Regions from separate parts of the Homo sapiens genome. Here all the other regions are reported to be linked to region 2. Evidence: microRNA targets listed by miRTarBase, many of them from high-throughput screens and not tested one by one. Region 2 holds a microRNA gene; each other region holds the end of a gene's coding sequence.

Region 1 (5,000 bases), not on the chromosome of region 2:
CAAAAGTAATTGTAAAGCTGCAAATACTTTTGCACCAACCTATATTTGCAATAAAGAACCATCTAGTTCATTCATTCATTCAACAAATATTTACCAAGTATCTTATATGCCAGGCACTCTTTTAGACACAGGAGATAAATATTTTACTTAACAAAACAAACATCCCTGATTTCTGGTGTTTTAAGCTCTGGTTGAGGCTAATTGTTAAAAAACAACATTTCAAAACTTCTGACCCACTTACCTCTCTGTCCTGTCTATTCCCGCAAATATGTCATCCCTACTACCAACTACACAGCTTCTACAACTTAAAAATAAAAAAGAAGCTGTCAGAAAATGCCTCTTCTCTAGAGCTTCAACTGCTATTGGGACATGGTTCCCTGTCCTTCCTTAAGAGAATTTTCAGTCACTTCTAACTATTTATCTATTGGATTTTGGGAAGATATATTGATTTTTACTTTAATGACCTAGAATAGTATATCTTCAAATCAAAGAAGGCATGTTTTTTGATTTAACAACCTTTTGCCATTATCAAATTATTCTTGCTTTATAAGAGATGTATTTTAATTCTGTAGTTACTGATTATACAAGAAATAATTGCTACTTGATTAGACTTGGCGTATGATGGTCAGACTCAGTGTATTATGGTATCAGGTGATTTGCAAAGCAAATGATACAGTTTTAGTAAGTTCAGAGAGAATACTAACATAAGGATATTTTCTTTAAAAAAGAATAACTTTCCAGAGCATAGAGTATTTAGTGTTTTTAAATGATGGATACTGCTCTGTATGTATTTGTTTCAAAACATCTTATTTTATCTTTGCAGGAGCGATTGGTTACATGGGAACAAGTGCCTTTGTCCGAAAAATCTATACTAATGTGAAAATTGACTAGAGACCCAAGAAAACCTGGAACTTTGGATCAATTTCTTTTTCATAGGGGTGGAACTTGCACAGCAAAAACAAACAAACGCAAGAAGAGATTTGGGCTTTAACACACTGGGTACTTTGTGGGTCTCTCTTTCGTCGGTGGCTTAAAGTAACATCTATTTCCATTGATCCTAGGTTCTTCCTGACTGCTTTCTCCAACTGTTCACAGCAAATGCTTGGATTTTATGCAGTAGGCATTACTACAGTACATGGCTAATCTTCCCAAAAACTAGCTCATTAAAGATGAAATAGACCAGCTCTCTTCAGTGAAGAGGACAAATAGTTTATTTAAAGCATTTGTTCCAATAAAATAAATAGAGGGAAACTTGGATGCTAAAATTACATGAATAGGAATCTTCCTGGCACTTAGTGTTTCTATGTTATTGAAAAATGATGTTCCAGAAAGATTACTTTTTTCCTCTTATTTTTACTGCCATTGTCGACCTATTGTGGGACATTTTTATATATTGAATCTGGGTTCTTTTTTGACTTTTTTTTTTTCCCAATCCAACAGCATCCTTTTTTTTAAAAGAGAGAATTAGAAAATATTAAATCCTGCATGTAATATATCTGCTGTCATCTTAGTTGGACCAACTTCCCATTTATTTATCTTAAAACTATACAGTTACATCTTAATTCCATCCAAAGAAGATACAGTTTGAAGACAGAAGTGTACTCTCTACAATGCAATTTACTGTACAGTTAGAAAGCAAAGTGTTAAATGGAGAAGATACTTGTTTTTATTAAACATTTTGAGATTTAGATAAACTACATTTTAACTGAATGTCTAAAGTGATTATCTTTTTTCCCCCCAAGTTAGTCTTAAATCTTTTGGGTTTGAATGAAGGTTTTACATAAGAAATTATTAAAAACAAGGGGGGTGGGTAATAAATGTATATAACATTAAATAATGTAACGTAGGTGTAGATTCCCAAATGCATTTGGATGTACAGATCGACTACAGAGTACTTTTTTCTTATGATGATTGGTGTAGAAATGTGTGATTTGGGTGGGCTTTTACATCTTGCCTACCATTGCATGAAACATTGGGGTTTCTTCAAAATGTGTGTGTCATACTTCTTTTGGGAGGGGGGTTGTTTTCTTCTGTTTATTTTCTGAGACTCCTACAGGAGCCAAATTTGTAATTTAGAGACACTTAATTTTGTTAATCCTGTCTGGGACACTTAAGTAACATCTAAAGCATTATTGCTTTAGAATGTTCAAATAAAATTTCCTGACCAAATTGTTTTGTGGAAATAGATGTGTTTGCAATTTGAAGATATCTTTCTGTCCAGAAGGCAAAATTACCGAATGCCATTTTTAAAAGTATGCTATAAACTATGCTACTCTCATACAGGGGACCCGTATTTTAAAATCTCCAGACTTGCTTACATCTAGATTATCCAGCACAATCATAAAGTGAATGACAAACCCTTTGAATGAAATTGTGGCACAAAATCTGTTCAGGTTGGTGTACCGTGTAAAGTGGGGATGGGGTAAAAGTGGTTAACGTACTGTTGGATCAACAAATAAAGGTTACAGTTTTGTAAGAGAAGTGATTTGAATACATTTTTCTGGAACTATTCATAATATGAAGTTTTCCTAGAACCACTGAGTTTCTAGTTTAATAGTTTGCTATGCAAATGACCACCTAAAACAATACTTTATATTGTTATTTTTAGAAAGACTCAAAACACCTGTATTTAAACCTTAATATGAAAATCATGCAATTAATAGTTACACAAGATGTTTTCATTACAAAATATGTACCTATCTATTGATGGACTCTACATCCTATATTGTGACATGTAAGTCCTTTAAAAGGTGAAAAGTATGATTTCTTACCACTTAAGTATGATTGATATGATCCAACAAATTTGATCAGAAGCTGTAGGTAAATCCTCTTCTGAAGCCAAAATGGTATATTAAATATAATTTATTGGTACTTCCATTTTCTCTTCCTTCTTACTTGCCTTTAAGATCTTATAAAAAAGAAACTAAAAGTTAATATTTAGTTGCCTATATTATGTAACCTTTTAACTATATATAAAGTACTTTTTTGGTTTCTTTCTCACCACTTTTATTCAAAAGTACTTTTAACATACCAATACATAGTCTGTCTGATGGGAGTATAAATTGGACAGTAAGGTTTTGTCTTAATAAAATGAAATTTGTTTCTCATGATATGAATCTTGCAGGTAAGATGTAGGGTTTATTGAAAATGTGTGGGTTAAATGCTTTCAGGTACACCAATTCTTTCTACTAAATTGAGCTCTATTTGAAGTTCTTTGGAATCTGTGGTGAAAAATAATTTTCTGATTTCCAAATACATTAAGAGCATTAAATGAATATTAATCACCTTTAAAGTCTTTTAGAAAAGGACTTGTATTGGTTTTTGGCTGCATAGAGGGGTTGAATAAGTGTATGTATGTGTGTGCGTGTGTGTGTGTCTTCTTAAAGAAGATGTAATTCACAAATAGTTTAGCTCCCTAGCGCTCAGTTGTAGAATAGAAAATAGAACATTATTCAAGTTAATTGAAAGGTGAGGTTTTTATACCCCCACTAATGCTGTGTATCTGTCTTTCGTTTGTTAACATTATTTGCTTAATTTCTTTCAACTCACACTTTGGATAATACTATCAAAAACTAAGGCTAAACATTCCTTGTGTATCTTTAAGCATGCTTCTCCTGAAATTTAACTACATTAGTAGTTGACATTTGTATACATATATCCTAATACAAGAGTAGGATAAGGTGGAAATGTAATGGCCTGAGGGATGGTGAAGCATTCTTTTAGTATTTTTCATCATGTTGGGCTCCTAGATTGTACTGGGGTTGCCCATAAATCAAACCCCATACTCTTAGAATTCATTATATTATGGTGATATCCGAACCTAGTGAATGGTATGCTTGGGTGTTTTCCATTGAGAGTGGATGGACCTCTTTATAAAGTTGGTTGCTGCAAAATCCAGTTCTTCCAAAAGCCACTTTATTTAGGGTTTATTCACAAGTCATATCCATTTTGGTACAGTGTTTGTTTCCTAATATTTATTAACCACCTTATACCAAATGTCTTGCAAAGAAATGTTATTAAAACCTTGAATTTTTACAAATGTAAAAAACAAAAAGTGTATTAATGTATTTGTTCAGGAAAAGCTACATACCGAAGGGCTTTTGTATATGAATTCTGTGGTGGGGAGACCCATTTGTAATCTATATGGCAGTTCCATCTGGGTTTTAAGTTTAGATTTCACCGTGTCTTAGTGCTTCATTCTATTGGTTTATTGGAACATGTAATAAATAGGAGTAGTGATGTATTAAAACACAAGTATTCATTAATGTTTTATATCTTCACTAAAATTCTATAGTTATGAAACTATCAATCAAGGTGTTATATTTCAGTCAGAAGTGAAAATTTATGAAGAGTATTTGGAAGTGTGTACAGAAATAAACTAGACTTACAGGTAGGCTAGATCAGAACGTTAACATATGAACCTGCAGAAATCTGGTAAGACTTAAATTCAGTGTGAGGAATAACTCTAGTTCTCTCCTATGAGCATTTCCTAAAAGCCATCTGATTTGGCATTCTTACTGGAGCTGCAGACAGAAATCTACAAAGACAAAAGTAAACAAAATTAAGTTATTATTCCACTGTTAGGAATGGAAATAAACTTGTGAAGTCTGTTTATTTTGAAGTATTGGTGAACTAGGCTTGCTAATTGATAACTGCAGCAGTTTGTGTTTACTCCAGTTCATCAGCTTAGGTCATTTGAAAGATATAAGAGCTTAAGGCAAGAAAGAAATAACATGGAATTCTATTTGAAGGACAACAGAACATTCTTGGAAAAGCAGCTCCAGTTGGTTTTTCAACTGTCAAACTTGAATGTGTAAGTCCCCACAGAGCATGGACAGTCGGTGCAGAGTTCCAAGGAAACAATTATTGCCTGATGACCACTTCCATTTTGTATACACTCTTTGGTTCGTATAGGCCATATTCCAACTGGCTTTTTAGTAATAGAAATCCAGTATATAATGTATCAAATACAATTGAGGTTCTAACCTAGTGTGTTAATT
Region 2 (5,167 bases):
GCATGGGTATGGGAATGTCTCCAAATGCAACTTTTCCCATAAAAGAAGTATCTGACTGCCCCATCCCTTTTCCAAAACCAAAGGCACACATGAAGATGGGAGAAAATGTGGAGGTTCTAAGAACCCGATGGCTGGGTAGCAAACTCATCCTTCTCGGGATGCTTTCACCTAAATAAAGCCCAAGGTGCTATACACGGCCACTAAGCATATTTAATTCTACTATCAAAGAGGAAGCTACTACCAGGTCCAGTGAATAGCAATAAAACTATTTAGACAATATCATCAAAGCCCCAAATTTATTTGCCACTACATTAAGGCAAAACAATTTAAAATATTTTAAATTTAAATTTAAATACATTTTAAAATATTTTAAGTATAATGATCTAGAACGTGGACCAACAAACTACGGTTGATAGGTCAAATCCAGCCAGCCACCTGTTTTTGTATAGTCTACAAGCTAAGAATGTTTTTCCCTTTTTTTAAATGGTTGGAAAAAAAATAAAAAGAATATTCCGTGACATGTGAAAATTATACAAAATTCAAATCTCAGTGTCCATAAATAAAGTTTTATTGGAACACAGCCATGCTCATCCATTTACATATTGTCTATGGCTGCTCTTGCAGAGTTGAATAGGTACTAAAGGGATAGTATCATCTAACAAGCCAAAAATATTTACTAGCTAGTGCTTTACAGAAAAAGTTTGCCAACCCCTGGTCTAGAGACAAACCTGGGTTGTGAAAAATACTTTTTACTGATTTCATTTAATACTTTATAGTTTTCCCTGGTATATTCACACCTATTACTTTCATTTTATCTTCACTCCAAGTCAGTGAGTTATATCCTGTTTAGAGATGAGATCGCAAGTTTGAAAGTGGACTTGCCCAAGGTCATGCAGCAGTTAAGAGGCAAGGCCAGGGCTACACCCCAGTTTTCTGACCTATATCCCAAGGTGTTCACAACACACAGCTGTCTTCTTGGATGCCTGCTAATTGTAGCTGCCGTCTTTTAGACATTCTCTCCACATTTGATAGTTCACCTTAGTGTAAAGTCCCTCCTTCCTAAAATAGGACTGAAAACAAACTGCCCAGCCCCACTTCCTGCTAGGATAGAGACACACAACTGTGGACCCAGTGGCTTCCCAATCTGGCAGAGGCAGTTGTGGGAGAAGCTTCTCGATGGTGGCATAGGCAACAGCTCTCTTGGCAGACCAGTTCTGCAGACTATCAAGAAGCTCCACCTGCAGCCTGTTTCTTCAGCCTGTCCGACAATTCTGTGATCTATCTATATACCTCAATGCATTCTTTTGTGCTTAATCTAGCTACTCTGTGGATTCTGTTCTCCACAACGATGACCAGAGACCAACACAAGTTCAGAAGAAATCCTTATAATACTACAGTGTTTCCTAAAACCTTCCAGAACAACTTCCCACCATCATTACTATCTTCTAAAATCCAATCCCATTTCCATAAGATGTTAAAGGATTCTGTAGTTATGTAAATAAATTATAAAACATCAAGTTAAACAGATTTCTTTACTACAGGACTTCTCAGAGCCTTAAAATGCATGTGTGCTTCACAAATCTCCAAGAAAGGGACAAGTATACAACATTTGAAAAATGTATTTGACCACTGAACCATTTTTTAATATGTCTTACCAGTACAGTAATATATTTGGGGAAATATTGATCAACATACCTTCTACTTGGAAAAAAAAGTTTATAATTATAAAATATTTTAAAATAAGGCTGCTGAAATGAGGAATACAATTCTGGAATATGTTGGGTGAAATTATGGAATGTATTAGGGTTGAAAATGATTTCATGTACTGTTCAGGGGATATATTTTAGTGCAGCCATTTTGGAAAGCATTGGCAATGATTATTTTAGGTTAATGCAAAAGTAATTGCAGTTTTTGCCACTGAAAGTAATGGCAAAAACAGCAATTACTTTCACACCAACCTAAATAGCAAGTGTCTTAATCCTTATATTACTCTTTAATCCAATTATACTTCTAGGAATATTTCCTTAAAAAAATCTGAAATGTGGACAATTACCAGATCCTCAGCCCTTATATACACTTTTGTGACTTTATGCAAAAGAAAAAAATGTTCTCACTTGAGAAAAACACAGAAGGGTACTGCTTTGTCTTTCTATTCAGGTCATAACTTCCTTATGATTGAGGGAAAAGAGACAAAGGGGCTGTTATTTTCTTAGTGGCATCATGACACTATATAAACATTTATTTAGCTCTTTACCTCCTACAGAAAAAGGAAAAAGGAAAGTTGAGAACTTTCCCAAGAGTATCTCTATTGTTAATTAAAACATCCTCAGCCAGATGCATGGCATCCCTGTAAGTGAAACAGTGAAGAACCTGGGCGACATGAGTATGTAGTTAGAGGTGTCACGATGCTGAGCTAACCCGAGGGCTGATGATGAACTACAAACCTTCAGGATAGATTTTTTTCTGTGGGATTCAGTTTAACTTGGTAAAGAATATGATAATGATAAAGAACTGCATGTTAACCCTTTTAAGTCAATCTAAGTATTTTTAAAAGGTCCTTTAATACTACTTAAATATTTAAATTATATTTTGAATATGTATATACTTAATACATATAAAAATGATATAAATTTTCTGTCTAATTCTGTGGAGGACTGAAGGAAGCTTCAAATTCAGCAATTTGTAGATTCAGATCATGTGACTAGGACAGCACTGCCCTCTAGTGGTGGAGTATCATGCTTTCACTTTGAAGCTTCTGATAGATCAATAAGCACCTTTAAAAGGTTGAATCTAAGCCAGGCGTGGTGGCTTTTACGCCTGTCATCCCAGCACTTTGGGAGGCTGAGGCGGGTGGATCACCTGAGGTCAGGGAGACTAGCCTGACCAATATGGTGAAACTCCATCTCTTCTAAAAATACAGAAATTAGCCAGATGTGGTGGCATGCGCCTGTAGTCCCAGCTACTCAGGAGGCTGAGACAGGAGAATTGCTTGAACCTGGGAGGTGGAGATTGCAGTGAGCTGAGATTACGCCACTGCACTCCAGCCTGGGCGACAGAGTGAGACTCCGTCTCAAAACAAATCAAAACAAAAAAAAGGTTGAACCTGGGCGGGGCGCGGTGGTCCACGCCTGTAATCCCAACATTTTGAGAGACCAAGGTGGGAGAATCACTTGAGGCCAGGCATTTGAGATCAGCCTGGGCAACACAGCAAAACCCCCACCTCTATAAAAATTTTTAAAAATTAGCTGAGCATGGGGAGGCTGAGGAGGATGGGAGGATGGATTAGGCCAAGGAGTTGAGGTGGAAGGAGGACTTGGCCCCTCGAGTTTGAGGTTGCAATGAGACATCCATGATCATGCCACTGCACTCCAGCCTAAGAGACAGAATGACACCCTGTCTCCAAATTTTTTTTAAAAAAAAGGTGAATCTATTGTTTAAAACGGAAGTTATAAAGAGACAGCAAACACTCAGAAGAACCTGTAACTCTTAAATAGTGAATGCCATAACCAAGTAAAGGTATTCAGCTCAAAGGCCACTCTTCAATTTGCTCTCAAGTGCATTTTACAGACAGAGAAATCATGGTCTCCAAAGATTAGAAATGGCCTGGCACGGTGGCTCACGCTTGTAATCCCAACACTTTTGGAGGTTTGAGGCAGAAGGATAGCTTGAGCCCAGGAGTTCAAGACCATCCTGGGCAACATACCAAGATCCTATTTCTACAAAAAATTTTAATTAATGGTGATGCACACCTGTGGTCCCAGCTACTCAGGAGGCTGAGGTGGAAGGATCGATTGAGCCCAGGAGGTCAATGCTGCAGTGAACTGTGGTCACTGCCACTGCACTCCCGCCTGGATGATAGAATGAGACCCTGTCTCCAAAAAAAAAAAAAAAAAAAAAAAGAAACAATTTCATCTCAGTCACAAAACCACATGAACCAAGAGGTCTGTGTTTCTGTCATGCTTACTATCTATTAGGCAAAATCCACAAACCATCTTTTCACATTTTATCTCTAAAGAAGTGCCAACTGCCTATAGCAGCAGCCACTGTATCCCTCTTCCCAAAGTTCGGCCCCTGGGGACCAGAGGCCCACACAAACCCAATAAGATCTGGGAACCCCTGGAAGGGAAACGAATCCTGAGCCTTCTCTCTATGTCCTCAAGGAAGCAGAACTGGGGGATGGTCTCTCTCTTAGGCTCCTATGTCAACAGAATCTACGTCTCATAAGAAGGGATGTGGTGGCGGGCGTGTAATTTACATCAGAAAAATGAAGTCTCTACCCTTGCTCTGTCATAGCACACCACATAGTTAGGACTCAGGACTGGTCGAGCAGGACCGGCCAACCCGAGGGAGCATATCTGGTGATTTACGGGAAACTCCAGTTCTCTCAAGGAAAATGGGATGTGATAGGAAAAGCAAAACCAACGAACAGAGATTCACCATGTCAGAGTGAGAAAGAGTAGTGGGTTATATTTAAAAAGGATTTTATACATTGGAAAGTATTTTCACAAGCATCTTATTTGCTCCTTTGGTTATGACCCCATAGGCCTTTATTCCAAGGCACCAGATTTTAAAAAGACTGAGAAGTTAAATGGCTTGCCTGTGTAATCTGGAAAATTGGTAACAGACTCAAGACTCACCCAGAGTCTGTTATGTTTCCCATAGCACCTGTGACACCCAAGGTGGAGGTGCCTTAATTACCAGCACATACAAATTATGAGAGGAGGAGCCCCTCTAGGCAGTCACAGTCAGAGCAGCACAAAGAGACTGTAATAGATGATCTTGTGGAAAGGTTTCTGTTCTATTTGTCTTTTAGTTAGAGACAGGGTCTCACTGTTGCCCAGGCTGGAGTGCAGTGGCACAATTATAGCTCACTGCAGCTTCAAACTCCTGGGCTGAAGTAATCCTCCCACCTCAGCCTCTCTAGCAGCTAGGACTACAGATGTGCATGACCACATCTGGCTAATTTATCCTTTTTTGGTAGAGAGGGAGACTCACTATGTTGCCCAGACTGGTCTTGAACTCTTGGCCTCAAGCAATCTTCCCACCTTGGCTACCCAAAATGCTGAAATTATAGGCATGAGCCATGGCACCCAGCAAACGGCTTTTAAAAATCCAAAGAACAGTCACAGAACTTAAAAAGTAAACAAGCCTAAGACTAGAAGAGGGA
Region 3 (5,000 bases), not on the chromosome of region 2:
TTTGCCATTTTACAAAGAGCAACCGTACTCCTACCTCCACCCAAGTTGGTAACAACCTTATCTTACAAACAACCCTTAATATTTTAAAAGCTGCAGAAAAAACAAATACATGAATAAATGAATAAACAAAAAACACATAGGGAAAGGGTATGAGCTCTTGCTGCAAGGAGTAGATGAAAGACTGATAAATGAAGCTGAGGTCCCCCCAGTGCTTCCCTTTCAATAGTTTATGCTAAAAATATTTGTTTTTTAAAACTCTGCGCTTTCTTCATTTTTATTGGAACGCAATTTGTGAACCACAACTGAGTCTGTATGCAGGATCTCCAGAACGCAAATCAGAAAAAAATTTGAGATTTTATTCAGATTTTTCTATTAGATTGAGCCACTAATGTTCGGTAAGGGGCACTTGATGGTTAAAAAACACAACTGGCATGATAAAACTACACTAAATAATATCTACTTTATTTGAACAGTCATATCAAGAATGGCCCTAAATTTAATCAAGGACTAAATTTAATGAAAGACTCTGACATTAAAGACTCTGGATTGTTTGAAGGTATTTTGCCTGCAGGTGAGACTGGTTTTGAGGGCACAGAAACGTAGCCTGAATGAACCATTCAGAACTCATCATGCATCCAACTGAACACGTTTCATGCTTACTCAATTTTTTTTTTTTAAATGCAACAGGCTCAGTTTTCTCACATTGGTGCATCTCTTCATGCTAGAACTGCTTATGTCTACAGAGTCCCTGAAGAAGCAAAAATCCTTTTTTTAGCATTAAACATAGCATATGGAGTTCTTCCTCAGCTCTTGGCCTATCGTTGTATCTACAAACCAGAGTTCTTCATAAAAACAAAGGCAGAAGAAAAAGTGGAATAAAAATATTACTTCATGTTCCTCCTTTCTAAATTACTAACTTTTGTTATACTGGTACTGATATTTTGTCCCATTTCACTCTCTTCTCATACGTGAGTACTTAAGAATATGTACATTCTTGCTCTGCACTGTATGTGTGAGCTATATGGTATTGTGTAAATTTTTTTTGAAGGAAAATGGAAATTCTTGAGAAACAGTTTGTTTAAAGAAATATATTCAAAATCATTTGTGAATAAACTTGATCATCCATCTCAATATTGTTTGACATATAAAATAATTATAAGTGTAAAAAATTACAATTTAGTGCCAACAGTAGTGAGCATGAAATGAAACTATTCAAAAGAGAATATGGCCTGTGCATATTAAAAAATTCAAAACAGTGAATGCAGACTGGAGGAGTAACTTTTGCAAATAAGATGAATATGCTTCATTATTAAACTCAATATAAAAGGCAAATCATCAGAATATTTTTAAATGTTGTTTGAAAAATGTTTTCCCAAGGAAAGTTTATTATTTGCTGCTGTTTCAAGAAAATTACTTTTACTAAATTTTTTTGTGTGAATTTAAACAGCTAAATAGGGATCAGTAACTTTATCTCTATCCTTAATGAACATTTGTTTTATTGGTGGCTGGAAATATTTCTATTGTATTTCTGTGTATATTTTTAATAAAATTATTTTTGGCCTCTTATAAAGACAAATCTTATTAAATTTGAAACATTTCATATATACACATAAAACGCTTTTAAAGAAAATTTGTGAGTTGTATATTCCAATTCAAAATGCCATCTACATTCCCCTTATGTTTCAGTGTGAGCAATGAAGAGGTCTTTTGATGAATTAAATTTCATTAATTAAAAAATACATTCAAATATTCAAAATTAAAAAGGACCTTTTAAGGAAGAAGTATTAGATCGACATCCCTACTATCTTTTTATGAACTTTTCATGTTTGGGATTGTATGTTGAGTATACTAGAGAAAATCAGTATTCACTAAATGAAAGAAACACACCAAAAATACAAACAGCCACCTCCTCACTGTGCCCTGGAATGATAAATGGACTGGTGCTTTCATACCCTTAGCTGCCATCATCACCATCATCATTATTAACGGCCCTAGGCTTTTAGGTCTGCTCACATTTTCTCATGTTTTTATTAGCTCTCATCAAGAAAACCAAAAGAAAATGGGATACAAATCAATGCATGGATAATATCAAATTACAAAATCTAGGGTCCACTGGGCTGGTAAATATGTAAGTGTAAGCAAATCATGTAGTCATCTCCCCATCATCCCCTACAGTGTTTTCAAATAATCTAAAACCCAGAGAGTGTTTAAAAAAAAAAAAAGAAAGAAAAAGAAAAACCCTCACCTGCACTTGATTCTATTGTCAGCTTGCTGTGAACAATTTTTGCTTTAATATATGAATTACATTAATACCTCACGTTACATATATGAAGCCAAATTACACTAACTTAGTTTGCTTACAACCTCAAATCTTACTCCCAGTACACATTCCAATAAATTTATTCTGTAAAAACAATACATTTTTTTGTTTTTGATTTTTTTACAGTAAACTTTTCAACTACAAACCGTGAATACGCGAAAGATGTTCCAAGGACAAGCATTAACAGGATTGATAAAACCCAAACTGACTAAATGTGTTCTCACAATATAAGCTGGCATAAAAATAAATAAAATTCTCTATTATCACAATAGCAACAATAATGTACACATAATAATGGTTTAAGGATGAATATTAACTATTCTAATTGTAGTTCCAAAAGAAAACAGTTTATTTTAAAAGTCTACATTTAAAAGTCAATGCTTTGTCTGGTTTCCCATAGGGCTGTTGCTGATTCCAGCTTTAAAATGTAAAGTATCCACCTTGAGTGCTTAGCTCAAAATTGTATTGGCACTGGGAAAAAAATAAATCATTGCCTTTATTTTGGAGTAACACAAAAAGACTCACTAACTTCACATATAGAAACTTAGTTTGTGTACATAACAATATGAATTTTGAGAAGTATAAGCTGTCAACTAGCTATTTCTAATACGGAATAGATATTTTACAATATGGTTAAACTTTACACATGGCCTCAAAACTGAAGGACAATTTTAATTTCGTCTTCAATATACCAACGTTATGTATTTAGGAATTAATTCCTGGGTTCTGTCACAGAGAGGAAATTCCATTCTTAAGCATTATGTTGAGTGGTCATCTAAAAAATGTTAATTTATATTTAACTGAGTGTTTGATGATGGTGGGGTCAAGGCAGGAAAACGATGATCATAACTGCCTTGATAAAAGGATCCTAGACATGTATAAGTCTGCGCAAAAATCTTGATAATCCTTAGTGGTTAAGGGCAACTTCATGCAACCAAATAACATGAAATTAAATCAGTAACTTTTAAAAAAGGCTAAAATGTCTTTTCCCCCCGAAACACAACAGAGAGGAATATGAATAATGTACATACAAACTGGGGTTCTGTCAATGACAACAAGGACTATGTGTTGGTTCATATCAAATCCAAGAATATTAGACAACCAAACATATAACCTTCTTGTGGTTTCTCTTAATATGCAGCATTCATTATGGTAGTTAGGTCTGTAAAAAAAAAAAAAAGAAAGAAAACAAGCCTTTAGATGATTTAGGATACTAACAATGAGAGCTATCCACACCTAGATAGTACATAATTGGGTTTTCTGAAATTTTAATATGCACTGCAGCATTAACAATACTTACTGAGCAAGAGCAGCTTCTGTGGCTTTGCTTTAGACCTGTCAGTGCAAAAAGTTAAAGGAAATCCTAGGGTATTTTTAGTGTCCCATAGAAAAAAATTATAAACCTTGTCTACTGTCTGTTAGGACAGAGTGCAGCAGTGCACATTCTACAATTCTAGGACTATGTTTATTGCTGGAATACATCATCAGTGGAGAAATTGATATAATCTATCTTTGTGAGGACATTCTTCAGAAAGAAAGGTAAGCTGTGTAAAATTTAAAAAGCACTTAGAGTGTGCACCAATTAATCTTCAGAATATTTATAACTTAATTACTTGTGACACATAGCTCAAACAAATGTAGAAGTTAATCATGATGTACAAAGTCTCTGACTTCTTGCTTTTAAAAAAAACATAAAGAATAAGAGGAAGCCTAGATTTCTTTTAAAATTTAGATGGCATCCGTGTGACAAACAGAAAATAAAACATTTGTTTCATAAAAGAATTATGTTTCTATTTGGGTCCCACTTTAAATTGTGTCTGGTTCTATTTCCCCAAAAGGATGCTATTTTTTCCCCCTCATCATTAACCCAAATATATTAAACCCCCTAGTAATACCCTCATGGGATGAATGAAAGAGGGAACTCAGCCCTCAAATATTTTTTCTGAAAACAGCCTGCTTCCACTCTTAATTTCACTAAATGAATGAACATGTTTGTAAGCACATGTGCACACTGATGGGTATGTTCTCATTCAGACAGCCCAACATGTATACTAAATGGTATATATTATAATAAACGATTCCAGGACCTTCAAAGGAGAGAGAGTTACCAAAACTTCCATCCCCCTAAGATGGCAGAAATATACTTTTTATCCTTCTGTCCCTATTAAAATGAGGAAGTAAATCTTTAAAAAAAAAGTTTGAAATTTGTGAACTTAAAAAATGGAGTGCCTGGTGACTCCTAATTATTTCTTAACAAAAACACCAGTTATAAGATTATACTCACAGATACTTTGGAGGATCTTCCTCCCTTGTGAAGGAGGAAGACACCCATTAGAACAATGAAAAATTGTTAGTCAACCAAAGAAAGTTTTTTTTTTTTTTTTTTGAGACAGAGTCTCGCTCTGTCACCTAGGCTGGAGTACAGTGGCGTGATGTGAGCTCACTGCAACCTCCACCTCCCCGGTTCAAGTGATTCTCCTGCCTCAGCCTCCTGAGTAGCTGGGATTACAGGTGTGTGCTACCATGCCCGGCTAATTTTTGTATTTTTAGTAGAGATGGGATTTCACCACGTTGGTCAGGCTGGTCTCAAACTCCTGACCTTGTGATCTGCCTGGCTCGGCGGCCTCCCAAAGTGCTGGGATTACAGGCGTGAGCCACCGTGCCTGGCCGAAACCTTCTT

The links. Region 2 holds the annotated microRNA hsa-miR-548aq-5p (GAAAGUAAUUGCUGUUUUUGCC, at 1,929-1,950, opposite strand). A microRNA usually pairs through its seed, bases 2 to 8, with sites in the 3' UTR of a target mRNA and lowers its output. Matches are read on the target gene's strand: a 7mer-m8 pairs with bases 2 to 8, a 7mer-A1 pairs with bases 2 to 7 and ends in A, and an 8mer does both.
Region 1: the mRNA of TM9SF3 is a reported target of hsa-miR-548aq-5p. Seed matches in the 3' UTR shown: 7mer-m8 at 1,334-1,340 and 7mer-A1 at 2,587-2,593.
Region 3: miRTarBase lists TM6SF1 as a target of hsa-miR-548aq-5p. Seed matches in the 3' UTR shown: 7mer-m8 at 1,411-1,417.

What each region holds. Positions count from the first base shown.
Region 1 is chr10:96,518,154-96,523,153 of GRCh38, reverse strand. It overlaps TM9SF3 (transmembrane 9 superfamily member 3), which reads left to right. Exons shown (of 15, transcript NM_020123.4): 15 at 824-5,000. The coding sequence ends at 891. Among named protein-coding and RNA genes, the nearest start is that of TLL2, 6.7 kb to the right of the region's middle.
Region 2 is chr3:185,765,955-185,771,121 of GRCh38, forward strand. It overlaps MIR548AQ (microRNA 548aq), which reads right to left and starts at 1,950; the gene lies at 1,893-1,950. All of the region lies in intron 2 of IGF2BP2 (insulin like growth factor 2 mRNA binding protein 2), which reads right to left. RefSeq lists enhancers at 3,352-3,852, 3,853-4,353.
Region 3 is chr15:83,135,794-83,140,793 of GRCh38, forward strand. It overlaps TM6SF1 (transmembrane 6 superfamily member 1), which reads left to right. Exons shown (of 10, transcript NM_023003.5): 10 at 688-1,615. The coding sequence ends at 879. It overlaps HDGFL3 (HDGF like 3), which reads right to left. Exons shown (of 6, transcript NM_016073.4): 6 at 1-3,482. The coding sequence ends at 3,477. Among named protein-coding and RNA genes, the nearest start is that of TM6SF1, 31 kb to the left of the region's middle.